Linked DNA regions of Homo sapiens. The protein of the gene in region 1 purifies or fractionates together with the protein of each later gene. This does not show direct contact. Each region holds a gene or a part of one and is shown in the gene's direction. Other genes may lie near its edges.

The links.
Region 2: the proteins of RGPD1 (region 1) and KIFC1 purify together in Homo sapiens (affinity purification with mass spectrometry; one large-scale study listed by BioGRID and IntAct). This does not show direct contact.
Region 3: the proteins of RGPD1 (region 1) and NUP85 purify together in Homo sapiens (affinity purification with mass spectrometry; one large-scale study listed by BioGRID and IntAct). This does not show direct contact.
Region 4: the proteins of RGPD1 (region 1) and NUP107 purify together in Homo sapiens (affinity purification with mass spectrometry; one large-scale study listed by BioGRID and IntAct). This does not show direct contact.
Region 5: the proteins of RGPD1 (region 1) and NUP160 purify together in Homo sapiens (affinity purification with mass spectrometry; one large-scale study listed by BioGRID and IntAct). This does not show direct contact.

What each region holds. Positions count from the first base shown.
Region 1 is NC_000002.12:87,010,037-87,015,793, forward strand, and holds the end of RGPD1 (RANBP2-like and GRIP domain-containing protein 1), read left to right. Parts: intron 1-187; exon of another isoform or gene 188-2,476; coding exon 2,477-2,511; 3' UTR 2,512-3,940; downstream 3,941-5,757.
Region 2 is NC_000006.12:33,402,746-33,408,822, forward strand, and holds part of KIFC1 (kinesin-like protein KIFC1), read left to right. Parts: intron 1-568; coding exon 569-622; intron 623-739; coding exon 740-790; intron 791-983; coding exon 984-1,384; intron 1,385-2,106; coding exon 2,107-2,886; intron 2,887-3,450; coding exon 3,451-3,741; intron 3,742-3,846; coding exon 3,847-3,920; intron 3,921-4,054; coding exon 4,055-4,130; intron 4,131-6,077. UniProt on the Homo sapiens protein: Minus end-directed microtubule-dependent motor required for bipolar spindle formation. May contribute to movement of early endocytic vesicles. Regulates cilium formation and structure.
Region 3 is NC_000017.11:75,218,380-75,224,456, forward strand, and holds part of NUP85 (nuclear pore complex protein Nup85), read left to right. Parts: intron 1-6,077. UniProt on the Homo sapiens protein: Essential component of the nuclear pore complex (NPC) that seems to be required for NPC assembly and maintenance. As part of the NPC Nup107-160 subcomplex plays a role in RNA export and in tethering NUP96/Nup98 and NUP153 to the nucleus.
Region 4 is NC_000012.12:68,737,987-68,744,063, forward strand, and holds part of NUP107 (nuclear pore complex protein Nup107), read left to right. Parts: intron 1-3,826; coding exon 3,827-3,994; intron 3,995-4,368; coding exon 4,369-4,476; 3' UTR 4,477-6,077. UniProt on the Homo sapiens protein: Plays a role in the nuclear pore complex (NPC) assembly and/or maintenance. Required for the assembly of peripheral proteins into the NPC. May anchor NUP62 to the NPC. Involved in nephrogenesis.
Region 5 is NC_000011.10:47,836,641-47,842,717, reverse strand, and holds part of NUP160 (nuclear pore complex protein Nup160), read left to right. Parts: intron 1-1,030; exon of another isoform or gene 1,031-1,474; intron 1,475-2,129; coding exon 2,130-2,340; coding exon of another isoform or gene 2,341-2,490; exon of another isoform or gene 2,491-2,652; coding exon 2,653-2,875; exon of another isoform or gene 2,876-3,217; intron 3,218-5,094; coding exon 5,095-5,173; intron 5,174-5,716; coding exon 5,717-5,831; intron 5,832-6,077. UniProt on the Homo sapiens protein: Functions as a component of the nuclear pore complex (NPC). Involved in poly(A)+ RNA transport.

The sequences.
Region 1 (5,757 bases):
GAGTAATATGTGACTTAAATTTTATGGAGTACTAAGGAAAACGGGCAGACTTAATATAAAAGTGGTGCATTGGTGGTGCTTAAGGGCAAATACCGATAACATGGTGTACAAATAAAGGATCCCGATGATTCAAACAGGTGGAAGTGATGGGAGAACTGAGTTGTCACACAGTACCATATCCACACTGTCACACAAATCTCACCTTTATTTATTCCCTTTTGCACTAACGTAGCCAGAAATGTGAAACGATGACAGTTTTTTCAGTAGGTATTTTTTTTTTTTAGTTTTTATCATTGACCTTTGAGGTGCACTATTAAATTGCTCAGTCCATTAAAATAACGGATTGCTGATTTAAAAACTGGTTCCTTGCTTAGCTTCAGCAAAACAGCAAAGTCTACCACATTAAATGTATATTGTTTATTTGATTTTTATTGACTTTGTTGTCTTATTTTAACTACTTAATTGCAAATCTGTCTTGGGGTTAACACTGTGTAAGAGTTTTAAGCATAAGAAGTCTGTACTTAGAGTTTAGATGTAGTTTTATATTTGTACATGTTGATGTAACATTTTAATAATAATAATTCAGGTCTGCTGGGCATGGTGGCTCATGCCTGTAATCCCAGCACTTTGGGAGGCTGAGGCGGGCGGCTCACCTGAGGTCGAGAGTTCAAGACCAGCCTGACCAACATGGAGAAACCCTGTCTCTACTAAAAATGTAAAATTAGCCAGGCATGGTGGCACATGCATGTAATTCCAGCTACTTGGGAGGCTGAGGTAGGAGAATCGCTTGAACCCGGAGGCGGAGGTTGTGGTGAGCTGAGATCGCACCATTGCACTCTAGCCTGGGCAATGAGAGCAAAATTCTGTCTCAGAAAAAAAAAAAAAATCAGGTTAATTCTGGGATCTGAGCAAAGTTTTGCTCCTTTCCGAGAGGTGAACACGTTACGCAATTATTAATAATATCCCTGTGGGAAGGGGCTTTACAACAAATTATTTTACAGGTGAAGGGCAGAAATGAAAACATTTTCTAGAGCCACTCCTGCCCTTCACACTCAGGAATGTCGCAGTAGTCATCTCTCTGTTCTGGATCAGTAGTATAGCACCAGGGCCCCTGCGCATCGTTGTCTGGATTCCTCCAGTCCCTCTGAGGGGTGTGTAGCAGGTGAGAATCTGGGGAGGATGGAAGAGAAGCACTTAGACTATATTCTAAAAATCAGCTTGCTATTAGCAAGGCAGAAGGAGATGCTCTCGATTCCCATCTGAGATTGTCATCCAAATGCATTTCAGCTGGGTGCTGCAGCATTTGTGTGGTCAGATTTTCAATTTCTCTATTGATAGGCTGCTTCTGGCACAGTAGCTAATATTACCATTGCTACTGTGACAGCCAAGTCTTAGACAGAGAGCCAAAATATTTTTATTGCACAGTCAGGAGAAATATAAAGGCCTCAAAAGCCTGCCATGGTCTTAATTCATTCCAAACACCTGCTTTTGTCAGTTGCCCTTTTCTCTGTAAAAATTTTCGTAGTTAACACCATTTTGTCCATGTGAACTATGTGCCAGGAATTCCACTAACATCTTTCCACACATTCTCTCTTTTAGTCCTAATAAAAAAAACCATTTGAGGAAGGTGTTATTATCCCTGTTTTACAGATGAGAAGACTGAGTGGCAACGTAAAACAAAACAAAACAAAACTTGCCTAAGCATAAATAGCTATGAAGAAGCAGATCAAGAAGTCAAAGTTGATCTGTCTGATTCCAAAGTCCTGGTTTTCTCTGAAATGCAGCTTGAATTATTGGGGATGGAGGAGGGATTTAAACTTATTTTCAGTTCTAGAGATGAGTTGCTGTATAGAGACAACCATTTAGATGACAATCACAAGACTTACAGTCTAGAAAGGCAGGTTTTATTTCTGGTTCTTCTGTGAACCTATTTGGGTAACCCCCACCCCCCAAGACCTCAGTTCCCTCATGAAGATGAGCCTAGACTACCTCATAAAAATGGCCCAGAGTGTCTCCATGGCCCCCGATAGTCTCTGACTTCGCCATTTGGTTGAATCAGTTTTCATTAACTCACGGGGAATATTTGATCTGCTCATCTCATAGGGATATAGCAAAGGCAATTTGTTGAGTGTTGGGGGAATGGATAAAGGTGAGTAACACTAAGTTCCTATTTGATAAGTGTCATTACTGAGAACTTAAGGCCACCTAACACCAAACTGGGAAAAGCACAAAAAAATGCACTAAAATAAATAATAGGCAAGTTGTGACATTTGAATTTCACGTATCTTCATTTTCATTTTTATATTTTATTTACTATTTTGCTCCACAATTTGAGTCAAACATGTGATGAGAGTTCTAACTTGATATGTTTACTTCAGTCCCAAACATAGTCATCTTTGGTCTTTTCTCAGATTTGGCCTAAAACTCGTAGTTTCATTGATTTTTTTTTTTAACTAGGCATTCTTCTATGTTCTAGGTCTTCAAGAAACCTCCATACCCAAGAAAAAATAGAAAGCAACCATGTTCTACTATGGTGCCAAAAATAGTTGAACATCGACATCAAAAAGATTCTTTCTGTCTGCTTATTCACATATTCTGGTTTGAATTAAAAGTGATGAAATTATCCTAAATACAGTTGGCCCTCTGTATCCATGGGTTCCACATCCACAAATTCAACCAACTGTGGATGGAAAAGACTTGAAAAAGATGAGAGAAAATAACAATATGACAATAAAACATAATACAAATAAAAACAATACAGTATAACAACGATTACATAGCATTTACATTATATTAGGGATTGCACAAGAGAAGGTATGTAGGTTATATGCAAATACTGCACCATTTTACATAAGGGACTTGAGAAGCATGGATTTTGGTAGCCACAGGGGTCCTGGAACCAATCCCTCACAGACACAGACGGACACTTTACAGTAGATGAACACAAAGATGAAAGGAAAAGTCTGACCTAGGTTTGCGGGGAGAAGTGGAACTCCATTTTTGACAGGTGATGCCATTTTTTGTTTTGGACATCGTCCCTCTGTAGTTCTTTCCATTCCCAGTCTTGCACTCTGAAAGATACACTGAAGGAAAGTCCACACAGTGGTCAAAGTCTTTCACAAGACACCACGTGAAGGTCTGCACAGCACAGTCACATTGAGAAAAAGATCTCATGCACCAGACCCCCTGTTTCTGCTTTCTAAAAGATCATCTTTTGCACCTGCAAAAAGGCTGCAGTAAACTGGGCCATTCCATACTTTGATTCATGTATTCAAATGCTACTTATGAGCTCTCTGTGTATTGAGCCCCACCAGGATGCTGGGGACACACGGGGCACAGTGCAGCCAGAGGCTTGGCCATCATAGAGCTCACATTCTAGTGGAATCAGACAGGGGGGTTACAGGAAATATTCAAGTAAACAATATAAAATGAGATCACTTGATGATACATGGATACATGTTACATACATGATGAGACAGAGTAAGAGAATGGGGAAAGGGTTTTTAGATGGGGGAATGGCAGGCTTTTCCGAGGCTGAAAGAGATCCAACCCACTTCTATTTCTTCAGGCTCCCAGTGATATGAAAAAGTGCCAAACAGGACTATAAAATTGTGGTCTACTGTAAATGGTTTGCAGTAAAAGTTCTCAACCAGCTTCCACTCAACCAACTCACCAGTTAGACAATGGGCCCTCTCCTGTGTTTAAAACAGTCCGGTGCCCACCTGGGTCCACATGCAGCTGGCAGGTGTTTGCTAGTGTGCCCACCCATGTCTGTTCCCCCCACGTGAGTTATGTGCTTACAACGAGTCGTTTCTTTGCATTTTCCAACTTTCTTACATTTATATTTAATTAAAGATGATCTAAACTGAGAAATGAATGTGAAAAGAAACAAAGCTCTTTTTTGTTTGGTTTTTAACTAAATTAAATGTTTTTAACAAGTTGAAACGTGAATCATTTAAAAAATTGCTATCAGATCCACAGAGGGCAATCCACTCATATAGTTGACTATAAAGCTTGAGGAGGAATTCATAAAAATCTAAAGGTTTTACACATGCAGATTGATTAATAAATGTCGAGATATGGTCCACTTCAAAAATAAGGAAAGTAATTATTGTAGATGTTGCACTAGAGCATAGTTTATGCAGGAAATGCACCAGAGACCTTCTACTGGTGACCCCATATTCGAAGAAAAAAAGCCTCTGCTCTACATCAAGAGGTGTCAAGTACACTTGTGTTTTCAATGAAAATATAAAATGTTTAAGGTATATTTGCACCATCATTTAAGGTTACCCACTTTAGCCATTTTTAAATTCACTGATCAATCACATGGGGAGTACTCCTAACGTACCTACAGCAAACTAATGCTTTTAACCCAATACTACGTATTATGATTGCCAGTACATCTTCATTGGGACATAGTATTACAGTAGACATAAGACACTCATCAAAGTGTAAACTCAAGGTACTTTGTGAAAGGGAGGTCTAGGGGTCAAGGAAGATTTGCAAAGGAGGTGATGATTGAGCTGACACCTAGGCGATAAGAAGGAGCTGGCACAGCAGGACAAAGGTGAAGAGGGTCCCAGGCAGGAGGGCGTGTGCTTGGGGTGGTGAAGGAACAGAAGTAAGGCCAGAAACTTTGTAGAAAAGTTTAGCAAGCCAAGCAAACAGCAGCCGGGGGTTACGTAAATAATGCCGGGCCCTGGCACATTTGGGAAGTCTTTGGGTCTTATTTTAAGGGCACTAGGAAGGGCTTTAAACAGGGAAGTTATATTTCTTCGAGATCAGGTGTACAGCTACAAGTAGCCCCAACCAGTGGTGATAGGGTCTTGGACTCGGTGAAGGCAGTGTGGCTGGTGGCAAGTGGCAGAAGTAAACGTGATCTAACACTGACTGTTCCTGGCAAAACCCTGGCAGGTAAGTTAGCAGCAGGTCAATATCCCACAGCAACTGTATGTACCCACCGGAGTTTATATAACCTTTTGCTCCCTTCTGTCACTTTGAAAACAAGCAAACTAAGCCTTCAAACTTCACACTTCAAACTCAACCTACAGTCATTCCCATGTTCCTTCTGGTTAACAATTTACAAATGACATATTTAAATGTTAGCATTTTGTAGAGAGAATCAGGAGAATCAGGGTTTTTTGTTTTTGTTTTTAAATCTGGTACAATTAGGTCATCCTATTTAGTTTACCGTTTGCTTGCTACTTGTAAGAACTAATAACTTTACCAGATAAAGTTTAGATTTCATCTGTACTTTAATCTCAAGAATTCGAGATAAATAGTGGTAAGGAAGAAAGTACAATGCGTACAGCTAATGAAACCCAGGAAGATGAGTCAATGCATAGAAATAATTCCAACCCAAATAAATACTATTTAAAATGCTACTTGGAGTTTTGCCGTGATACTAGACACAATATGGCAAATCATCCTCAAGAATACAAGAACTAAGGTGTTTCCAGTCCTCTTTAACACCTGTGATGCAGGATATTTGGAGAGCTAAATTGTTATTATTAACAGTCTTAATACCTGGCCACCAACACAGTAGAGGAAACAGTTTTTAAAGTGTCATACATCTCTTCAAATATTCATACGCTTAATGAAACATTCGCACATCTAAAAAGGCATGCAATTTCTATTGAAATCCTGTGTGCCTCTTATTCTAAGCAGTGGGACTATTGACCCACATTTTAAAATAAACTATAGAAAAGGAACTGTAACTTTTACACATTTTTAAAAGACAACATATCAGAAATCTGA
Region 2 (6,077 bases), on another chromosome or scaffold:
TGGAGGCCAAGGCAGGCAGATCACCAGAGGTCAGGAGTTTGAGGCCAGCCTAATCAACATGGTGAAACCCCGTCTTTACTAAAAATACAAAATTAGTTGGGCGTGGTGGCGCATACCTATAATCCCAGCTACTCGGGAGGCTGAGGCGGGAGAATCGCTTGAACCCTGGAGGTAGAGTTTGCTGTGAGCTGAGATCATGCCATTGCACTTCAGCCTGGACAACAAGTGAAACTCTGTCTCAGTCAATCAATAAATAAAGTATATGGGAGCGTGTGCATAGACTATATTTAATACTATATACCTATTTATGTAAGGGACTTGGGCATCCTTGGATTTTGGTATTCTTGGGGGGTGCTGGAATCAACCCCTTTTGGATACTGAGGGATGACTGTAATTTCTGGTTCTAGGGGAGGTATCATTAGGAGCTGGCCAGACTTAGGGATAAGGGAAGGAAGTTATCCTATTTCTAATTCTGAGAAAAGCACTTCTTCTGCCCCTGTCCTAGCAAGTGTACATGCCATCTTAAGAATGATCATTCTACCTTTGCTCTCTCCCATCTCCTGGGCAGCTCAAAAAGTTTCCAAGAAGACAGGACCCCGGTGTTCCACAGCTATTGCCACAGGTAACTGTGCTCAAGAGCTGGGTCTGAGAAGGGATTTGGGGTATGTGTAAAGGGAGAATGATGGAGGTGGAGGGACACTGGTCCTGTAATTCCTAAGTCACCTCCTCAATTCTGTAGGGTTGAAGAACCAGAAGCCAGTTCCTGCTGTTCCTGTCCAGAAGTCTGGCAGTAAGTGACAAACATAACCACTGGGTGAGAGGCTGGGATAGGGAAGAGAAGATGGTGAGTGACCAGAAAAATCCATTTGGTCTCTAAGGGGAAGGAGATGTAGCATCAGGTGTGGATCCCATAAAGGCTAGAAGGGAGGAGGGATAGAGAGCCTAGACTTCACTGACCTTTGTCCTTTCTGTGTTCATCTTAGCATCAGGTGTTCCTCCCATGGCAGGAGGGAAGAAACCCAGCAAACGTCCAGCCTGGGACTTAAAGGGTCAGTTATGTGACCTAAATGCAGAACTAAAACGGTGCCGTGAGAGGACTCAAACGTTGGACCAAGAGAACCAGCAGCTTCAGGACCAGCTCAGAGATGCCCAGCAGCAGGTCAAGGCCCTGGGGACAGAGCGCACAACACTGGAGGGGCATTTAGCCAAGGTACAGGCCCAGGCTGAGCAGGGCCAACAGGAGCTGAAGAACTTGCGTGCTTGTGTCCTGGAGCTGGAAGAGCGGCTGAGCACGCAGGAGGGCTTGGTGCAAGAGCTTCAGAAAAAACAGGTGGAATTGCAGGAAGAACGGAGGGGACTGATGTCCCAACTAGAGGAGAAGGAGGTAAGGGCCAGATTTTCACCAGATGTCAGCCCCGCTTTCCTGGCAGAGGTCATGCCTCCCCTCCCTTCCAGGTACCCCTCAAGTCTGGGCTGAGAACTCCTGAGCACCTATCTTTAGCAGTATAGGTGCTGCTGAAGATACCTCTCTCTTGACCTGTCTGCACCCCAGCCCACTCCTGACTGTCTTGCTTTCTGCCACGCTTCTTCCTACCCTTGACTGTTTGCAAAGCTCTCATTTAGATCTGTGTCTTTCTTAGTCCTCCATCCCTCTTTCTTTGGGTTCCCATCCTGATCACAAATTCCTGTGGTACTCTCTTTCCCTCCTCCCATGTCCACTTGACTCCTTCCTGGTGAGCACCAACTAGATTAAGTTATTTGCAGTCTCTTAAATGACTCAACTTTCACTTCTGGGCATTCTGCATATGTGCTTCCCTCTTTCTGGAATGTTCTTTGTATACTACATCCTTCCTTGGTTCACTCCTGTACTTCTGGGTGTCACCCTAGATATCATCTTCCTTGTGCTCCTCTTTGTGCTTGGACATACCCATAGCACTCCCTGTCTTAGTACCATGATTCCTTATTTTCTCATCTTTCTTTGTTTACCAGACTTTGAGGTCCTTTTGAGCAGGGACCTCACTTCCACCCACTCCATACGCCCCACAGTTTGTTCTTCTTCTTGGTTGCATCTTACCCTCTGTGTATGTTGTGTTCTCTTCTGGGCAGAGGAGGCTGCAGACATCAGAAGCAGCCCTGTCAAGCAGCCAAGCAGAGGTGGCATCTCTGCGGCAGGAGACTGTGGCCCAGGCAGCCTTACTGACTGAGCGGGAAGAACGTCTTCATGGGCTAGAAATGGAGCGCCGGCGACTGCACAACCAGCTGCAGGAACTCAAGGGCAACATCCGTGTATTCTGCCGGGTCCGCCCTGTCCTGCCGGGGGAGCCCACTCCACCCCCTGGCCTCCTCCTGTTTCCCTCTGGCCCTGGTGGGCCCTCTGATCCTCCAACCCGCCTTAGCCTCTCCCGGTCTGACGAGCGGCGTGGGACCCTGAGTGGGGCACCAGCTCCCCCAACTCGCCATGATTTTTCCTTTGACCGGGTATTCCCACCAGGAAGTGGACAGGATGAAGTGTTTGAAGAGATTGCCATGCTTGTCCAGTCAGCCCTGGATGGCTATCCAGTATGCATCTTTGCCTATGGCCAGACAGGCAGTGGCAAGACCTTCACAATGGAGGGTGGGCCTGGGGGAGACCCCCAGTTGGAGGGGCTGATCCCTCGGGCCCTGCGGCACCTCTTCTCTGTGGCTCAGGAGCTGAGTGGTCAGGGCTGGACCTACAGCTTTGTAGCAAGCTACGTAGAGATCTACAATGAGACTGTCCGGGACCTGCTGGCCACTGGAACCCGGAAGGGTCAAGGGGGCGAGTGTGAGATTCGCCGTGCAGGGCCAGGGAGTGAGGAGCTCACTGTCACCAATGCTCGATATGTCCCTGTCTCCTGTGAGAAAGAAGTGAGGACCCATGGGCACTGGAACTGGGAAATGGGGAGGAGTGGGCAGGGTGCCACGAGATGGAGGTAGAGGGAGAAAGGAGCAAGAGAGAATTGAAGGATGAAGTGCAAGTTATCAGGCTGGGTTACCACATCCGGTTTTGGCCTGTGGGCTGTCGGTAGATCTGCCTTAACCTGGGAGTGGCGAGGGAGTGATGCATCTGCCAAAACGAGGAGGGTCACTACATCTCATGTCTCATCTTCTTGCTCAGCTCATCCTAGCCATGCTGGCCTCCTGGCTGTTCCTCAACCAGCTAGTCGTGCTCCCCATCTCAGGGCCTTTGCCTGGATGCTCTTTCCTGGAGATCTTGGCTATCCTGTCAAAACTTGTGTTCCCCACCCCGCCTTTATACACTCCCTATTCTATGTATTCCTTACCATTTTCAGACATACTGTGCATCTTATTTTGTTTCTTGACAGGCTAGAAAGCTTCAAGAGGGTGGGGGTGGGCTCTTATTCATTTCCATACATATTACTATGTACTGACTTCTGCCTGCCTTTTTGCCCCTTCTGCTCCCATCCCCAGGTGGACGCCCTGCTTCATCTGGCCCGCCAGAATCGGGCTGTGGCCCGCACAGCCCAGAATGAACGGTCATCACGCAGCCACAGTGTATTCCAGCTACAGATTTCTGGGGAGCACTCCAGCCGAGGCCTGCAGTGTGGGGCCCCCCTCAGTCTTGTGGACCTGGCCGGGAGTGAGCGACTTGACCCCGGCTTAGCCCTCGGCCCCGGGGAGCGGGAACGCCTTCGGGAAACACAGGCCATTAACAGCAGCCTGTCCACGCTGGGGCTGGTTATCATGGCCCTGAGCAACAAGGTGGGAATGGGAGTGGGGTGAGATACGGGACCTGGGGGACAGTTGGGGTTGGCTGTGCAGAACCCTGCCTATTCCTAAACATCTGTCCCCACCTCAATCATCTAGGAGTCCCACGTGCCTTACCGGAACAGCAAACTGACCTACCTGCTGCAGAACTCTCTGGGTGGTAGTGCTAAGATGTGAGTGAAAGGGACAGATGGAAGGGGTCAGGTAGGAACTGTGTTGGGGTGAGGGGTAGAAAGGGGAACAGTGGAGACCTGTCCAGGCTCTGCTGGCCCCTAATGCTGGGGTTGGGCACATTGTCTTTTCATAGGCTCATGTTTGTGAACATTTCTCCACTGGAAGAGAACGTCTCCGAGTCCCTCAACTCTCTACGCTTTGCCTCCAAGGTGCGATTACCACCCGTCAGCCTTGTCAGGACCCGTGGGTGGTTGTAGGCTTCTCCATTCCAATCCCTTTTGTCTTCTAGGGCAGGGAGCACATTTGTGCAGAAAGGTTTTGCAGGTATCTGAGGCACTGCTCACCTGGTTCCATTTTTAATTATTAGCTTTTGAGTTAAGTTTTTTAAAAAACGGGTGATTAATTTAACCTGAGAAAGCTGATTAAAAAAAAAAGAAAAGGTGACTAAAAGGTCTAAACTGGTTGGGCGTAGTAGCTCATGCCTATAATCCGAACACTTCGGGAGGCCAAGGCAGGAGGATTGCTTGAGCCCAGGAGTTTAAAATCAGTCTGGGCAACATAGTGAGACCCTGTCTCTACAAAAAATAGGAAAATTAGCTGGGTGTAATGGCTCACACCTGTAGTTCCAGCTACTCAGGAGGCTGAGGTGGGAGGATCACCTGAACCTGGGAGGTGGAGGCTGCAGTGAGCCGTGATCCTACCACTGCACTTCAGCCTGGGTGACAGAGTAAGACCTTGTCTCAAAAAACCAACACACAAAAAATCCCTAAGATTCCTCCCTATCAGCATACAGAGATCATTATTTTTAGGTCTGCCTAGACTCCACTATGTAGCTGCACCAAAATTTATCCACCAGTTCCCTCTACTGGACACTTGGATTGTTTCCACACTTTTTTAGTCACAAACAAGGCCACGTTGACTAACTTTGTACATACATCATTTTGTATTTTTCAGTTACATCTAACTAGGGAAATAGTCCTTGAAATGGGATTACTGGATCAAAGACTTAGAGGTTTTTCAGACTATTCCAAATAGTGTGAATTCAGACTCCAAACCTCATGAGGGTCAGCCAGTGGCTATATGAATTCTCACTAATGAGAATTCCTTCCACTAGAATCTCCTTCCACTAGTGTTAAGCAAGTCAGAAAGTTTCCTTACTGTCTGCCTCCACAGTAATTTTTTTCTCTGGTACACCCTCCTCCTGCGCGTATAGCCCTTTGATGGGCTCTGGCTTTATTTGAGGTCTGATCAGGTCTGTCCTGCTGTGCGCTTGGGCCTCCTCCCAGTCAGCACTGATTGTTGCTGTGGAGTAGCCAGCACCTGCACCCTGATCTGGTATTCTACTTTGATGAGGGTTTCCCTCACTATCTTGCAAGTTCAATTTTAGAGGGTGGTGATGTTTTTTCTAACTTTTTATTAATGTTATACCAATGTAACATCCAACAACATGAACTTTAATATCCTCTAATACCCAGTTTATGTTAAATTTCACCCAACTGTCTCAGAAGTGTCTTTTATACATAATAGGTTTGTTCAAATCAGGATCCAGGCAAGGGCCACCCACTTGGTTGAAATGTCTCAAGTTCCACAACCCTATCCCACACTGCCACTATTATGTCGTTTGTTGAAGGTCATTTGTCCTATAGAATATACTATTCTGGATTTTGGCTGGTTGCTTCCTCTTTCCCCCATACTTTCACTTATTTATCATATTTGGGTGTTGTCAACCTGACCCATCCATTTACAAGCTCCTTATTGACTTTTTCACCTAGTGATTTTATCCAGCAGTGACCATACCTGGATCTTTATTTCATTAAGGGGTTTCTAAATGGGGATTTTTCTAATCTTAGTTGTTCTGCATTGGTTAGTCACGATTCTTTTATGAAGACATTTGCCTTGCCATCTACTTGGTTTCTCTGAAATTCAATTCATACAGGAAAAACAAGATAAATGCTGAATTATTTATTGATTTTCAGTATTGAGTTGATATCCTAGCAGCTTCCAAAGGTGACCAATGAATGTTTATCTGAGGGTTATTTTTATTTTTATTTTTTTTGAGACAGGGACTTGCTCTGTTGCCCAGACTGGAATTCAGTGGCTCAATCATAGCTCATTGTAGCCACCAAAAGTGTTGGGATTATAGGCGTGAGCCACCC
Region 3 (6,077 bases), on another chromosome or scaffold:
ACCCACTGAGCCTCCAGCAGTAGGCTGGCTTTTGGAGTCTGTTACTATGGAGACTCTTTTGGATCTTTTCTTCCCTGCTCTATGGGAGAGTCTAAAACCGAGGTACCATGTAAGAAAAATAATGCTTTGAAGACTTTTCCAGGGTAAAAGGAAATTTGATTTCTTTGTGGATCTAAGGAAGAGAAGACACAAAAAGGAATACAAAACCGTTTTTTTTTTTTTTTTTTTGAGACAGGGTCTCGGCTGGGTGCGGTGGCTCATGCCTGTAATTCCAGCCAGCACTTTGGGAGGCCAAGTCAGGAATCTCTTGAGCCCAGGAGTTTGAGATTAGCCTGGGCAACAAAGTGAGACCCTCCATCTCAAAACAAATTAATAAATAAAAATATAAAAGAGAAAAGATAGTCCGACTCTGTTCCCCAGGCTGTTGTGCAGTGGCCTGATCTTGCTCACTGCAACCTCCGCCTCCTGTGCGGTCCTACCACCTCAGCCTCTCAAGTAGCTGGGACCACAAGTGCCAACCACCATGCCTGGGTAATGATATAAAACCAATTGACAGGGGCTGGGGTGCATACAGGGTTGGATGTAAATGAGCTTGCACATTACTTTGGATCATCAGTTTCGAAGTCAGCATGTCGTATATGTGTATATGGATGTATTTTCTATGTGTTAGGTATTTCCATTCACCTCTGCTGACTGACCCAATTGGGAGGTGGCAGGGAGGAGATCGCTAGTTGACTGGGCTAATGGAAAGTCAACTAAACTTATAAAGCCTGAAATTGGGAACAGATTGTGAGGACAAAAAAAAAGAAAAGAAAAGAAAACCTGGAATTCGGCCCGGCACGGTGGCTCACAGGAAGTAGTGGGCCAAATGTTTGAGTCTCTGATTGATTCGCTAAGGTTTGTTGTTGTCGTTTAGAGACAGGGTTTCGCTTTGCGGCCTGGGCGGGAGTGCAGTGATGCGATCATGGCACAATGCACCTTTGATTTCCTGGGCTCAAGCAATCCTCCCACCTCAGCCTCCTGAGTGGCTGGGACTACAGGCGCACACCACTACGCCTGGCTAGTTTTATTTTTTGTAGAGGTGAGGTTTCACTGTATTACCCAGGCTGGTCTTGAACTCCTGGGCTCAAGCAATCCTTCCACCTTGGCCTCCCAAAGTGTTGGAACTGCAAGTGTGAGCCACCATTCCTGGTCATTCACTGAGTATTTATTGAGTCCCTACTATTTGCAAGGCACCAAGGAGACACCATGACTAAAACAGGCAAAGATTCCTGCCTTTATGGAGTTTATATCCTGTGTGTGGAGAAAGAACAGCAACACATAGGCTAGTACCATGTATCCTGGCACATAGTGAAATGCTCTGCCAAGGTGCCAAGAAGGGAGGGAGGCTGCAAGTGCTGGAGGGGCATCGAAGAAGGCCTCCCTCATGAGAGATTGGAGGTGAGACCTGAAGGAGGTGAGGAGAGCTAGGCTGAAGAAAGCATTCCAGATAGCAGGGCCTGTAGATGCTGTGTTCTAGAGCCAGGGTGGGGCAGGAGGGGCTGTGCTATGTAGGGGTAGGTGGGAGGGATGAGCTGGGGAGATAAAGACAGAGCGATACCAGGCCAGGTCTGAGACAGCCCCCTGGGCTGTCACTGAGACTTTAGCTTTTTGCAGCCTACATAGCAGGGTGACTAACAACATGGTCTGTGGTGCCACACTGCCTGGGTTAGCATTCCAGCTCTGCCTTTTACTAGCTGTGAGGTGGGTTTTTTTCCTTTTTTGAGACAGAGTCTCTCTCTGTCACCTAGGCTGGAGTGCAGTGGCGCCATCTCAGCTCACTGCGACCTCTGCCTCCGGGGTTCAAGTGATTCTTCTGCCTCAGCCTCCTGAGTAGCTGGGACTACAGGCGCGCGTCACCATGCCCAGCTAATTTTTGTATTTTTAGTAGGGATGGGGTTTTACCATATTGGCCAGGCTGGTCTCAAACTCCTGACCTTGTGATTCACCCACCTTGGCCTCCCAAAGTGCTGGGATTACCAGCATGAGCCACCATGCCTGGCCTTTTTTTTTTTTTTTAAATACAGTTTCACTGTGTTCCCCAGGCTGCAGTGCACAATCACCAGTCACTGTAGCCTTGGCCTCCAGGTCTCCAGTGGTCCTCCTACTTTAGCCTCCCAAGTAGCTGGGACCACAGACATGTGTTACCACCACCAGCTAAAGTTTTTATTTATTTATTTATTTTTTGAGATGGCGTCTTTCTCTGTTGCCCAGGCTGGAGTGCAGTGGCGCTATCTCAGTTCACTGCAACCTCTGCCTCCCTGGTTCAAGCAGTTCTGTCTCAGTCTACCAAGTAGCTGGGATTATAGGTATACGCCATGATGCCCAGCTGGTTTTTGTTTTGTTTTGTTTTGTTTTTTGTATTTTTAGTAGAGATGGGGTTTCATCATGTTGGTCAGGCTGGTCTTGAACTCCTGACCTCAAGTGATTTGCCTGCCTCCCTCCATCCCACCATCCCAATTTTTTTTTTTTTTTTTTTTTTAGCTGGAGTCTCGCTCTATTGCCCAGGCTGGAGTGCAGTGGCACGATCTCGGCTCGCTGCAAGCTCCGCCTCCCGGGTTCATGCCATTCTCCTGCCTCAGCCTCCCGAGTAGCTGGGACCACGGGCGCCTGCCACCACGCCTGGCTAATTTTTTAATTTTGTTTAGTAGAGACGGGATTTCACCATGTTAGCCAGGATGGTCTCGATCTGACCTTGTGATCTGCCTGCCTTGGCCTCCCAAAGTGGTGGGTTTACAGGCGTGAGCCGCCACGCCCGGCTAACCCAATTATTTTTTATTTTTATTTATTTATTTTTTGAGGCAGAGTCTCACTCTGTTGCCCAGGCCAGAGTGCAGTGGGGCGATCTCAGCTGGGATTATAGGCTCTCGCCATCCTGCCTGGCTCATTTTTTTATTTTTAGTAGAGATGGGGTTTTGCTGTTTTGGCCAGGCTGGTCTCGAACTCCTGACCTCAAGTGATCCGCCTGCCTCAGCCTCCCAAAGTGCTGGGATTACAGGCTTGAGCCACCATGCCCAGCCAAATTTTTTTATTTTTTGAACTCCTGGCCTCAAGCAGTCCTGTTGCCTTGGCCTCCCAAAGTATTGGGATTACAGGTGTGAGCCACTGTGCCCGGTCACTAGGTGTGAGATCTTGAGTGAGCTACTTAACGGCCTTAAGGGTCCTCATCTGTCCAGTGGAGATAATAATACCTGTCCCATGGGGCTGTTGTGATCATTAAATTAGTTAAAGGACATAAATGTGGGTGAAGTAGTTGACACGGTTGATGCACAGTAAAAGCTAGTCTTTTACTTCTAAGCCATATGGGGTGAGGGGGCATTGGAGAGCTGAGCAGAGGAAGCCTGAGATCTTACTTAGGTTCCCAAAGGCTGTCCTGGCTGCCATGTTGAGACTACAGCAAGGATGGAAACAGGCCAGTCTGGATTCTGCTGTACTAAGCCAGGTAAAAGATGGTGGTGGTGTAGGCTAGATATGTTTGAAGAGAGTTGATGGGGTTTGCTGATGGATTGATTTGATGTGGGCATGCAAGAAATAGAAGAATGTGGGAGGATAAGGTTGGTGAATTGGAGGCAAACTGGTATTTAATTTTAGACATGTTTCTCTCGTGTGTGTGTGTGTTTTGTTTTGTTTGTTTGTTTGTTTGTTTTGAGACAAAGTCTCTGTTGCCCATGTTGGAGTGCAGTGGTCAGATTACAGCTCACTGCAGCCTTGACCGCCTAAGCTCAGGTGATCCTCCCCTCCTAAGCCTCCCAAGTAGCCAGGACTACAAAGGCGTGCCACCATGTCCAACTAATTTTTGTATTTGTAGTGGAGACGGGGTTTTGCCATGTTGTCCAGGCTGGTCTCAAACTCCTGGGCCCAAGCAATCCACCCTCCTTGGCTTCCCAAAGTGTTGGGATTACAGGCGTGAGGCACCATGCCTGTCCGACATGTTACGTTTTAAGATGCCTATTCAAGATCTAAGTGGAGATGTTGACTAGGCACTTGGATATACAAAGCTGGAATTCAGACAAGGAAGTTTGGGCTAGAGAGGAAAAGTTGGGAGTTATCAGTATGTATATGTTTATATATTTGTGATTTTTTTTTTTTTTTTTTTTTTTTTTTTTGAGATAGAGTTTTGCTCTTGTTGCCCAGGCTGGAGTGCAGTGCCTTGAATACTGAATTAGTGAATATTGAACCATTGCTCCTAGGGGAAATACAGGGTTAGGTTCCTGCAAGCCTCTGGTCATATTTTGTTCAACCAATCAATATATAACCGATCACTTGTTTTATGTGTGTATCTGTTTGGAGACAACTTACTTGACATAATATTGTTGAATCATTAACAGTGAAGTCAGCCAGGCGCAGTGGCTCACGCCTGTAATCCCAGCACTTTGGGAGGCCGAGGCGGGCGGATCATGAAGTCAGGAGATCAAGACCATCCTGGCTAACACAGTGAAACCCCGTCTCTACTAAAAATACAAAAAATTAGCCAGGCATGGTGGCAGGCGCCTGTAGTCCCAGCTACTCGGGAGGCTGAGGCAGGAGAATGGCGTGAACCTGGGAAGTGGAGCTTGCAGTGAGCCGAGATCGCGCCACTGCACTCCAGCCTGGGCGACAGCAAGACTCTGTCTCAAAAAAAAAAAAAAAAAAAAAACTCAGGGCCAACAGCACTATAATTCGTGTCTGAATGAAGCTTATCTAACACCTCCCATAGTTCTTGCACTTAGCAACACTAGAAAGCACTTCAGTACTACACGTGGGGACCCAAGAAAATGTACAAAAATGAAAAAAATGTGGCACTAACTGCATCACGAGAAAGCCTTGTTTAGTGTGTGTCAAGCAACTCAATATTCTTGCCACTCTTAATTTTGATTTGAAAGTACCACAAATACTGATTTGGGGGTTACAGATAAATTTTAGTGAGTAGGCAGATTCACAGATAAAGACTGAACAGTGAAGACTATTTGCATTGAGTGTATATTTTATGTTATGTTATGTTATTTTTGAGATGGAGTCTCACTCTGTCACCCAGGCTGGGGTGCAGTGGCGTGATCTTGGCTCACTGCAACCTCTGCCTCCCGGGTTCAAATGATTCTTGTTCCTCAGCCTCCCGAGTAGCTGGGACTACAGGCATGCACCATCACGCCCGGCTAATTTTTGTATTTTTAGTAGAAACAGGGTTTCACCATGTTGACCAGGCTGGTCTTGAACTCCTGACCTCAGGTGATCCACCCGTCTCGGCCTCCCAAAGTGCTGGAATTACAGACGTGAGCCACCACGCCTGGCCTGAGTGTATTTATTTTACATATTTATATTTGAACTGAAACTTTTATGAACCATTTTATTTAATGCATTCTGATATTTTATATTATTTCATTTTAATTTTTTTCCAAACAAAACTTCTCACATATTTATTATTGAACCAACCTACTATTGTAGAGCTTATAATCAGAGAAAAACCATTTTCTCAACAAAGTATGTCCACCTTTCCAGATAGTGGTGACAGTTTCAGCTTGATGTGATAAGATGATAGTCTTACGTGTAGACTCATCTCATGTGTAATTCCTGGCAGACCCAGCTTGGTTCTTCTCCAGTCCCTCCTCTTGGGGTTGTAGCTAACTGTATTAGCAATTTTGTTTTATTTTGTTTTGTTTTGTTTTTTTGAGATGGAGTCTCACTCTGTCATCCAGGCTGGAGTGCAGTGGCACAATCTCAGCTCACTGCAACCTCCGCCGCCCAGATTCAAGCGATTCTCCTGCCTTAGCCTCCCAAGTAGCTGGGACTACAGGCGCCTGCCACCACGCCTGGCTAATTTTTTGTATTTTTAGTAGAGATGGGGTTTCACCATGTTAACCAGGATGGTCTCGATCTTCTGACTTTGTGATCTGCCCGTCTTGGCCTCCCAAAGTGCTGGGATTACAGCTGTGAGCCACCACGCCCAGCCCTGTATTACCAGTTTTAATCTGAATCCACTGGTGAATGGGACGATTTTGCTTTTGTTTCTTGGCCAGGAATTGCATGATCCTGGACATTTTGTGAGAAGATGGTGGGAGAAA
Region 4 (6,077 bases), on another chromosome or scaffold:
CAAAAAATTGGCCGGGCACGGTGGCTCACGCCTGAATCCCAGCACTTTGGGAGGCCAAGGCTGGTGGATCAGAAGATCAGGAGATCAAGATCATCCTGGCCAATATGGTGAAACCCTGTCTCTACTAAAAATACAGAAAACTAGCCAGGCATGGTGGCACGTGCCTGTAGTCCCAGCTACTTGGGAGGCTGAGGCAGAAGAATCACTTGAACCTGGGAGGCGGAGGTTGCAGTGAGCCGAGATTGCGCCACTGCACTCCAGCCTGGCAACAGAGCGAGACTCTGTCTCAAAAATAAAAATAAAAATACAAAAAATTAGCCGGGTGTGGTGGCTCGCGCCTGTAATCCCAGCTACTAGGGAGGTGGAGGCAGGAGAATCGATTGAACCCAGGGAGGCGGAGGTTTCAGTGAGCCAAGATTGCGCCACTGCACTCCAGCCTGGGCAACAAAGGGAGACTCCGTCTCAAAAAAAAAAAAAAAAAATTGGAATTCCCTTCCCTTACATAGATAGGTTCCATGGCAAGTGCACACAATATGTAAGACAGAACACAGGCTAGATTTCAGCCCCACTTACTTGCTTGGCCAGCCACCCTTGTACAAGGCACGGCTGTACACAATAGCCCTAGCATTATGTGCTGTTTTCGTATAGCTACCCCTCAAGTTTTTAAATAACTGGAATAGTCCCCTTAGTGTTGGGGCTGGTGGCACAGAGGAATGGCAGAGAGAATGGAGCAGGCAGGTCATCTTTACCTACCTTTCACTACCTCTACCTCTAGCACATTCTAGTCCAAGCCTCTACTGTCTTCCGTGGCTTCTCACTGTTCTTTATACAATCGTTCCTTATACAGATGGACTAGTGACCCTTTCAGAATAAAATACATGCGACTGTCTTACCCAGAACTTTCTGATGCCTTCTTATTGCACTTGGAATAAAATCTTTCTTTTCTTGATGTACAAGAGTATACATACTTTTGTTTTGTTCTTTTTTTTTTAAACTAACCCCCTAATCTTGTGTCCTACTGCTCTCCCATCACTATATCCTGGCATTCTGGGCCTCTTCATTGGTTCCCCTCTGCCTAGAATGCTCCTTCGCCAAGATAGGTGCATGGATGACTTTGTACTTCTTTCAGCAGCTGCTCAAATGTCATCTCTTTCAAGAACCTCTCCCCAACCCAACCACCCTATTTAAAATAGCATGTATGCATGTGTATACACACACACACACCTGTCCCTTTTAATCTCCATATCCTACATTAGTTTTCTTCATAGCACTTAGCACAATCTGATATAAAACATATTAATTTATTTGCTTTTTGTATGTCTACCCTCATTAGAATATAACCTTCATGAAGGGAGTAACCTTGTTTTCTTTATTTCTTTGACTCTGGCACTTAAAATAATGCTGAGCACATGGGAGGCTTTCAGTGGTACTTAGTAAATGAATGATACTGCATTACTGAGGTGAATGTACTGTCTTCAGATTAGGAATAGCTGTAATATCAGTTCCAATCAACTCTTGCTATCAACACATATTAGGTAATGAGTTTTTCTCACATGTAAGGCACTACATGGGGGGGCGCGGTGGCTCACGCCTGTAATCCCAGCACTTTGGGAGGCTGAGGTGGGCAGATCACGAGGTCAGGAGATCGAGACCATCCTGGCTAACACAGTAAAACCCCATCTCTACTAAAAATACAAAAAATTAGCCGGGTGTGGTGGCGGGCACCTGTAGTCCCAGCTACTCGGGAGGCTGAGGCAGGAGAATCGCGTGAACCCGGCAGGCGGAGCTTGCAGTGAGCTGAGATCGCGCCACTGCACTCCAGCCTGGGCGACAGAGCGAGACTCCGTCTCAAAAAAAAAAAAAAAAGTGGAAATATCCCTAGTGGAAATAATCCGTCTGTTTTACATATTTACCGGCTATTTCAAAGCTTTTGTTCATTCAGATGAGAAAAATGTCTTCAGTTGTAGCAGAGCTGTTTATTTGCTTTTCCTTGTAGCAATTTGCTGGGTCTGTCAGCCATTACCCTGGATAGTTGCTGGCAGCCCGCCCGCTAGTATCGGAATTCATTATAATTAGCAGAAGAGATTGTCTGCAGCACACTCTGATATTATGGCAGCAAAAGGATTTAGTAAAAGCAAGTCTGGGTCCATCCTGTGAGATAAGAAAGTAACCTGCTGCTTTTCGGGCAACAAGGAGTCAGAAGCCAGGGGCACCCGGCCTCTTTAACATAGACAGAAAGACTACATTGGAGCACAAATGGAAAGGTCCAGAAAGAAGCAGTTCTCTTATTCTTACTGGGTTCTAGGTTGGGATCACTAATATGAATTACAAGTAAAACCTTGAAGCATTTTAAATCCACCTCTGAAGGTAGCAAGTATCTATTTGAGAAAAGAAATAAAGGTGCTTCCCTTGTAAAGAAGCACTTTAATATTTGCTTTTATGTATTTATGCTTCAAACAAGACCAAAATATTGATAGTAATTTTTCCTATGTTTGGAAACCTGACCTAGATTAGCCCAAATTAGTACAATTACTCCTTGGTATAATTACCAGATTATACTTTGTTGTTGATTAACCCCTCCACTTACATGTCCATTTGAAAAATGTTTTAGCAATTTAATATAGCCTCTCACATGAAGATACTTTTAGGTATTCCATTAGGCTTTTCAAAGGAGCAGTTATTATTTTAGCTTGTCCTGTTTTTTTTTTCTACACTATTAGTGCTATTGATTTCCTTCCTATTTTTAAGATTATTTCAGAAATTGTAGTGTGTAATTTCTGTAATCCCAGCACTTTGGGAGGCTGAGGCAGGAGGATCACTTGAGCCCAAGAGTTCGATACTAGCTTGGGCAACATAGGGAGACCTCATCTCTACAAATAATAAAATTATTTTTTTTTTTAAATAGAAAAATTAGCCGGGCATGGTGGCACATGCCTGTGGTTCTTAGCTACTTGGGAGGCTGAGGTAGGAGGATTGCTTGAGCCCGGAGATCAAGGCTTCAGAGAGCCATGATTGTACCACTGCATTCCAGACTGGGCGACAGAGTGAGATGCTGTCTCAGAAAAGAAGAAAAAGGTTAAAAAAGAAAAGAAAAAAAAAAGAAATTATGTGGTTGGTTACTTTCTAATTATTTTAATTTTCAAATTTTTTGTAAGTAAATGTAGTGGGCATAAGAGGTTTACTCTTTTTTCTGTACTTTTACTGTTCACATCGATTTTAAGAAAGATCCATGTATGTATAAAGGAATGCCAATTGTTTTTTCTGCTTGTTTTCCTTATATATCTGTTCTGACTCATTAATTGTATTATTCAAATCTATAGGTTCTGTTTTTCTGTTTTTAAAAATTATATAAAGAAATTATAAATTCCATTTTCCATGTGTATAAGCAAAGTAGTCTGCAATGAAGTTGACCCTCCCTGTGTGCCCCTCCCCACATCGTCTTTTTCCCAGCAACAGTCATTGCTGTCAGTCTGTTGTGTCCTCTCAGGCCTCCTTAGAGCTATCTTTATTTATATGTATAAACATCCAAAGGAGTGGTGATTGTTTTCTGTTCTGATTTTTGCTCTAATGATATTCAGTTTCCAACTCATTCTTTTTATGCATGTTTTTATTCAGGACATAGTAAGTTTATTAGAAATACAAATGCAGAAGCATTTTATTTTCACTGTCATACCTCTCTGTAGTCTACGTTGTTCATCTTCATACTTTTTTGCTGTTAAATCTTGTCTACCAATTACATTCTGGGTTTGATTCAGTACCTGGCTTTTCTTTTTGTAAGGATCTTTAGCTTAAATTGTTAAAATGATTTATTGATGTCTGTTTGTAGGATGCCAAAGAAGACCATGAAAGAACACATCAAATGGTCTTACTGAGAAAGCTTTGTCTGCCAATGTTGTGTTTTCTGCTTCATACGATATTGCACAGTACTGGTCAGTATCAGGAATGCCTACAGTTAGCAGATATGGTATCCTCTGAGCGCCACAAACTGTACCTGGTAAGTTCTAGAGCCTTGTAGTTTTAAATTTTAATGATTTGATATGCTCTGTAGTAATATTAATTTTGTGAAGATGTGTTTACATTTGTAATTGCTCTTGGATTTTCTTAAAGTAATAGTCCAGTTTTAATGTTTTAATGTTTGTACTTTTTTCCCAAAATGTGTGTATATTTGTAAGCAGTTAGAAATATATAGACTGACTCTGAGAATTCACCTTGAAATTCCTGAACCACTCTAATTTACTAGGCTCTGGCTACATAAATCTTAAAGAGGCATTTCTTCTTATATGAAGCTAATCAGATCGATTAGGTAACTAAGTTCATACTTGTCTACTTGTCTTTGTTCTCATTCTTATTTCTCTTTTTAAAAATCAGGTATTTTCTAAGGAAGAGCTAAGGAAGTTGCTGCAGAAGCTCAGAGAGTCCTCTCTAATGCTCCTAGACCAGGGACTTGACCCATTAGGGTATGAAATTCAGTTATAGTTTAATCTTTGTAATCTCACTAATTTTCATGATAAATGAAGTTTTTAATAAAATATACTTGTTATTAGTAATTTTTTCTTTTGCATTACCATGTAAAATTTAGACATTTGAATTTTGTACTTTTCAGAATATTATCGTGACACTTTCAACATGTAGGGATATCAGCGTTTCTCTGTGTGCTTGTTAATAAAACTATATAAAAATTAAAATTTTCTGTTTTTACAAATTCCAGGGTTGTCTCTTTTTCATGTAATAAGAAAATTAAATTTTCTGTTCTAGTTTTTTCTGTAATCATAAGCATTCTGATATTTTAAAATCATAAAGATGATGGAAAGTAGATTTATTTTTAAGCCAGGTACGTAATTTTTTATTTATCATAAAATTTAGTATTTTTGAATATTAAAATTAAGAAGATGACTATAACAAGAATTTTTCTAACATAACATGCTATTATTATTTTAGTTATTTTGAAGACATTTCTAGTTTAACTTTCATTTAGCAAACTTCCTATCAAAATAAGAGCATATAAAGACTTAGCGTAGTACCTGGCACACAGTAAGCACTGAATATATTGGAGATTACAGATCCCGCTCTTCTAATAGGGGAAATACCATAAGTACATTTAAAAGGTGTCATTTAAAAATACAAGTAGTGGCTGGGTGCAGTGGCTCACGTCTGTAACCCCAGCACTTCGGGAGGCCGAGGCAGGTGGATCACCTGTCGTCAGGAGTTTGAGACCAGCCTGGCCAACATGGTGAAACCCTGTCTCTACTAAAAAAATACAAAAATTAGCCGGGCATGGTGGCAGGTGCCTGTAATCCCAGCTACTCAGGGGAGGCTGAGGCATGAGAATCTCTTGAACCTGGAAGGCAGAGGTTGCAGTGAGCCGAGATCACGCCACTGCACTCCAGCCTTGGGGACAGAGCGAGACACTGTCTCCAAAAAAAGAAAGAATTACAAGTAGTCTGAGCAGGAAGAACCTCTCTCCAGCTGAAAAGACTCTCAGGAAGTAGTATTGGTTTGGGGTTTGAGTAATGCACTGAATTTGCAAAGGCAAAGAGTGACACAAGAAGGATGAGGCTCTATAGATTAAGAAATCAGTATGAGCAAGAAATGATAAATGCTGGGCATTATTATGAACCAACAAATACACCAAATAGGCTAGAGTGTAGGGCTTATAAACAGGAGACAACTAAAAGAATGTGATTCTAATAGAAAACAGTAATTCCCCAAACTTGCTAATCATCTAAGGAATTTCTTGAATATGTATTTATAGATGCCACCCCTAGAGACAGCTGGCTTGGGAAGCCTGAGATGGGATCATAGAATTTGATCAGTTCTATATTATGTGCTTTTTTTGTTTTATTTCTCTAAAGAATTCATCTTGTCTTCCTGTTTTCTTTATTCTTACTAATATGCAAATGATTTTTACAGCTCATGCAGTCCTGTAATCATGATTATTGCTATGCTACTTTGCAAAAAATAAAAACAAAAAATTCATACCAAAACAAATACAGACTAGATTTGGGGTGGGGAGGGGAAATAAGTGAGTCTTAAAAGTAGTTTTGTTACTTGCAACAAACTGTATATATAGAAACTTT
Region 5 (6,077 bases), on another chromosome or scaffold:
GTACCTGGCCCTGATACTGAAATCATTAAGAATTATGGTGAGAGTAGTGTGGGAGAGAGTGACAGTGGGCCAGGAGCTAAAATCAACTGCAGTGAGCATGGGTAGCAGGTGGTATCTGATTCCATGAGCTTCAGAGCTGAGTGATTCGGGTAGCAGAGGAGGAACAGTGGCCTAGAATGCCAGTGGGGAACAAGGACATCTGTATGTTTTCCTTGAGGCCCCACCCCAAAGGGCATGGTAGAGAAAACTCTGGGGTCACTGTCCTCACGGGAGATCCAGGATCCAACTTTAACCGTAAGGCAGGAAAGCGAAGGAATTATTCAGAGATGAGGTTGAGGATCCAGAAAATTGTGCTGATGCCGTGAGTTACCAGAAGCAAAGTAGCTCTGGGAAATCATCAGCGCTGAAAAGGTACTTACATCCTTGGGAGTAGATAAGATGTGCCTTGGGAGAAAGTGTACAGTGAGAGAAGATGGTCCAGGATCAAGGTTTGAGGAAATCTAGCATATAGGGGTCAGGTCAAGGAGAAGGGGAAGAAATGGACAGGAATGTGGGAGGAAAACTGGGAGAGGGTAGTATCATAGGATTCATGAGAAGAGACTGTTTAAAAAGGAAGGCAAGGTCACATATGTGGAATGCTGCTAAGAGATCAAGTAAGAGGGCCAGGCATGGTGGCTAACACCTGTAATCATGTGGAATGCTGCTAAGAGTCAAGTAAGAGGGCCAGGTGTGGTGGCTCACACCTGTAATCCCAGCACTTTGGGAGGCCGAGGCAGGTAGCACTTTGGGAGGCTTGAGGCCAGGAGTTCAAGATCAGCCTGGCCAACATGGTGAAACCCCGTCTCTACTAAAAAATACAAAAATTAGCCAGGTGTGGTGGTGCACACCTGTAGTCCCAGCTGCTGAGGAGGTTGAGGTGGGAGGATTGCCTGAGCCCAGGAGTTCGAGGCTGTAGTGAGCTATGATTGCACCACTGCACCCCAGCCTGACAGAGTGAGACCCTGTCTCAAAAAAAAAACAAACAAACAAACAAAAATTATCAGATGGTACATGCTCCTTAGAGCCCTCAATCTCTCGAACTAGAGCACGTTCCAGGATCACATGGCCTTCCTTGTAACACTGGCTGTCTTCGGTGGCAAACTCGTAGATCCATCCCAGTTTGCTGCTGCAGTTTTTCAGCTCACATGTTGGACCATGTGGTGGCCAGTGAGCATGACCCAATCTAGAGCTTCATTGTACTGCAGGTTCACTACCTTGTTAAAAAGAAATGCTCTGCCAGTGGCGCCTGTGAACCAAGTGGAGATGAATTCTGAGCGGTTGGTCAGGATTGTATCACAGTTTGCATAAGAAAATGGACAGGTACCACGAATATGATCAAGGAAAATTCTGCCCATTTTTATGGCTGAAGTTCTAAAAACCCTGTGCAGCAGTGAGATCTGTGGCTGCCAGTGGCTCCTTGCTCCTCAGCTGGGATTAATAAACAAGCTCCTTTTGGGGAGGGTGGGGGAAAAAAGAAAAAAATAAATAAACAAGCTCCTTTTGAGGAGTAATAATGAAAGTTAGAATAGCTTAGTATAGAAACTAACCCTGATATGTTCAATTTGCGAAGGTATTTTTATATTAAAATATTTATTTTTGTAATATTTTTGCACATACATGTAAGCGCATGTATAAAATTGCTATTCTGTGTGTGTGTGTGTATATGTGTGCGCATGCATGCTATTGCAGGTTAAGAAGTAATAGAAACAGGAAATAACCGCAATTATTAAGGTCAGTTTTGTTTGATGCTGTAGTATATATGGAGGCCACATTCCACTACAAGCAATGGCCGGGGTATGGTGTTAATTTTTATTATAGTAGAGTTAATTGCATAAAATATTGTCCTAAATAAATGGCCTATCAAGTTTGGAAATGTCTCTATGTAACAGAATCACAGTGAAATTTGGATTTTGTTATGCTGTTTTTTATAAATGTACATAATGTGATTTGGCATGCAAAAGTGGTCCAAATCTGTTTATCCAAAATTTTCAAATTTGGTGAGTTCACTTGGACACTGTTCTCATATATTTCAGTAGAACAGTCAGTGAGAAAAGCATAAACTTTTCAAACAAATGTCTCTTTTTCAACAGGAAGACCTCTGGAGATACATTGGAGCTGATGGAGGAGTCACTGGACATAAATCTGTTGAATAATGCCATTCGCCTAAAATTCCAAAATTGCAGTGTTTTACCTGGAGGGGTTTATGTCTCTGAGACTCAGAATCGTGTGATAATCTTGATGTTAACCAATCAAACAGTGCACAGGTTACTTTTACCACACCCCTCCCGGATGTATAGGAGTGTAAGTTGGCTAAGTGCAATATCTTTTATTTCCCAAATTACTCTGGGTGTCACAAATGTAGTGCTGGAGCGATGTCTTTTGGAATTGAAGGAAATTTGGATTCTCGTTATCCCTCACCAAGCATACTTTGATAGCTACCGCTTAAAATGATCAGGCATACATTTTAAGTTGAGAATTAGTTTTCATTAAGAAGAATAGCTTTCTTAAACTTGACAGTTTTTTACTTTAAAAACTTTTTTAGCAATAGAGAGGAACTGAGCAAAATTCTGGTTATTTTGATTTAATAGATTTTTCTTTTTAATTACTCAACAGGAGTTGGTAGTTGACAGTCAGATGCAGTCAATATTCACTGACATTGGAAAAGTTGATTTCACAGATCCTTGCAACTATCAGTTAATTCCAGCAGTACCTGGAATATCTCCTAATTCCACCGCCTCTACAGCCTGGCTCAGCAGTGATGGGGAGGCCCTGTTTGCCTTACCATGTGCTTCTGGGGGAATCTTTGTTCTTAAGCTACCTCCTTATGACATACCTGGTAAGAATGGGAACTGAGCATGGATTTAACTTTAAACAAGGAATGTTAACATTGAAACAGTTCAACCTCGTCATCCAATGCAGGGATTGCATCTCTACTGCCCCGGAACTGGTCATTCATTATTGCTTGCCTAATGAGTCCCTAATGCTTTACTTTTATACAGTGGATAAGGAACTATAAAGCATATTGGAGCACGGAAAAACAAATAGACAAGTATAAGACAGCCTATTCTAAATCTTGTAGTAGAGATGGGTTGCCTAATTGTCTGCCCTGAGATGGAGGCATTATAACATTATAATTAAATTAATTGAAACAAAGACATTAAATACCCTGCACCAAGTTGCCACTGTGTCTTGCCTGGATTATTGTATTAGCTTTCTATATATCTCCCCAGATCTGTCTTAACCCTCTTCAGACACTTCTCAGGTGGACTGATATATTTAAAACCCAAGGGCCAGGCGCTGTGGCTCACGTCTATAATCCCAGCACTGTGGGAGGCCAAGGCAGGTGGGTCACCTGAGGTTGGGAGTTGGAGATCAACCTGACCAACATGGAGAAACCCCGTCTCTACTAAAAATACAAAATTAGCTGGGCATGGTGGCCCATGCCTGTAATCCCAGCTACTCGGGAGGCTGAGGCAAGAGAATCGCTTGAACCCAAGAGGTGGAGGTTGCGATAAGCCAAGATCGTGCCATTGCACTCCAGCCTGGGCAACAAGAGCGAAACTCCATCTCAAAAAGAAAAACCCAAGTTGGGTCATGTCACTGCACTGTGTAAAGCCGTCCTTTATGTAGTGCAGTGACATGACACAACTTTTCTTTTATTCTTTTTTTTTTTTTGAGATGGGATTTCTCTCTGTCGCCCAGGCTGGAGTACAGTGGCATGATCTCAGCTCACTGCAATCTCCACCTCCTGGGTTCAAGCGATTCTCCTGCATCAGTCTCCTGAGCAGCTGGGATTACAGGCATTTGCCACCATACCCAGCTAATTTTTGTATTTTTAGTAGAGACAGGGTTTCACCATGTTAGCCAGGCTGGTCTCGAACTCCTGACCTTGTGATCTGCCCACCTCAGCCTCCCAAAGTGTTGGGATTACAGGCTTGAGCCACCGCACCTGGCCTTTCTTTCTTTCTTTTGAGACAGAGTCTCACTGTCACCCAGGCTGGAATGCAGTGGTGCCATCTTGGCTCACTGCAACCTCCGCCCCCCCCAGGTTCAAGTGATTCTCATGTCTCAGCCTCCCAAGTAGCTGGAATTACAGGTGTCCACCACCACACCTGGCTAATTTTTGAATTTTTAGTAGAGATGGGGTTTTGCCACATTGACTAGGCTGGTCTCGAACTCCTGACCTCAAGTGATCCGCCTGCCTCAGCTTCCCAAAGTGCTGGGATTACAGGTGTGAGCCACGGCACCTGGCCAACATGACCCAAGGTGGGATTCAAATATATCATGTTATGCTGAATAAACCCAGAGTCCTTACACTGGCCTAGAGTGACCCACTGCTGTCTCCAACTTCATCTGTTCACTCTTCCCCTCTTCACCAGCCACATGCCTTCTTGTAATTCCTTGAATATGCCAGGAACACCCCTACTTCAACAAGGCATTTGTTTGGTATTGTCAGCTACTAGCTTGGCTCATTCCCTCAGCTCCTTTAGGTCTTTACTCAATGTCACCTTGTTGAGGCCTTCCCTGACCATCCTTTTCAAAATTGCAGTGCCCCTGCCTGCCCTCCCTATATCCTGGCACTCTCTGTACTCCTTTTGTGTCTTATTTTTCTGACTTACTACCATTCTACTTAATTTAACTGTCTCTGCTTCTCCCCTTCCCCCAAAGGAATATAAGTTCCAGGAGGACAGGAGTTTTAAAATTTGTTTTGTTTACTGCTATGTCACTACCATCTAGAACTGTGCCTGGCACATGAAAGGTACCTAGTGATTGTTTTAGAAAGAATGAAGTGATTCTGCCGGGTGGCAATATGGGTTACTGTCTGTAAAAGGCAAAAATTTCCATGAGAAGTATAAAAATGCTATTTTTATGGATCTAATAATGATTCAAAATATTTTAGGTGTGATATATGCAGGAAAGTTACATCCTAAACCTTTGTTAGTACAGAAATACGGAAGTCTGTTGCCTATTATAAAGACCTTGTTCATGGTTACATCATTCTTGCCTTTGGGTTTCTCTAAGTGTGTTCAAGAGGTGCCTTGGATATCATTGCAGGTATGGTGTCAGTCGTGGAACTGAAACAGAGTTCAGTAATGCAACGATTGCTTACAGGCTGGATGCCAACAGCTATCAGGTGAGTGGTGTCTGGCAGGTAAATCAAAGGGCCCAAGAATTTAATCTTTTTGCACTGGTCGGCAGTTATTGTTTCCAGTCTTATTCCAAGGCAAACATTATACTGGAAAGGAGAACAGTCAGAATAACATTAAATTCCATCTGAGGAAAGCCACACTCCCGAGTCCCTTTCATCTGCAATTGGATGCCTTGTCAGCATAAATCGGCCTGTTTATATTCTCACAATATCCAGTTCAGTGCTCTGCCCCGACTTACCCAAATCCAGTTTCGTGTAAAATTATTAGAAATAGAAAGTTTTTGATGGTTACAGGAAAACAATATAAAAGGAAACAGTCTTCCATTGTTATGTAGAGCCTTTTAAATTTTATTATAGTAATTGGCGATAAACCAAATAGAAATGTAGTTGTCTTATACCAGCATATAAGCTCTTGGTCCTTCTGCTAAGAGTGTACATTTATAATTTTATTATATTTCTTGAATTGCAAATTCTAATGATCAGATTCTTTGCAGCAGTAAAACTCTAAAACTGGGTCTTATGTTTTAGGGGTGACCAGTCGCCTTCAGATCGTCCCCTCAGTCTTGCTGTTCATTGTGTGGAGCATGATGCCTTCATCTTTGCTTTGTGTCAGGATCATAAACTACGAATGTGGTCTTACAAGGTAAGTGCTACATTTATAGTTGCTGTAAGTTAAAACAGGATTGTGAATCATGAGAATTGAAGTAAATTTTGCTGTTTCTCTAAAGATTATTAGATCAATTGGTTTGGAACTTATTGGTCACTGCCAGATTCAGACAGTTTCATTTAGCTTTATTTTGCATATATTTTCCTCCTAACTTACTGTCTTTTTATTTGGAAAAATTATCAACCTAACAGGAACACTGAAAGAGTAGTACAAAGTACACCT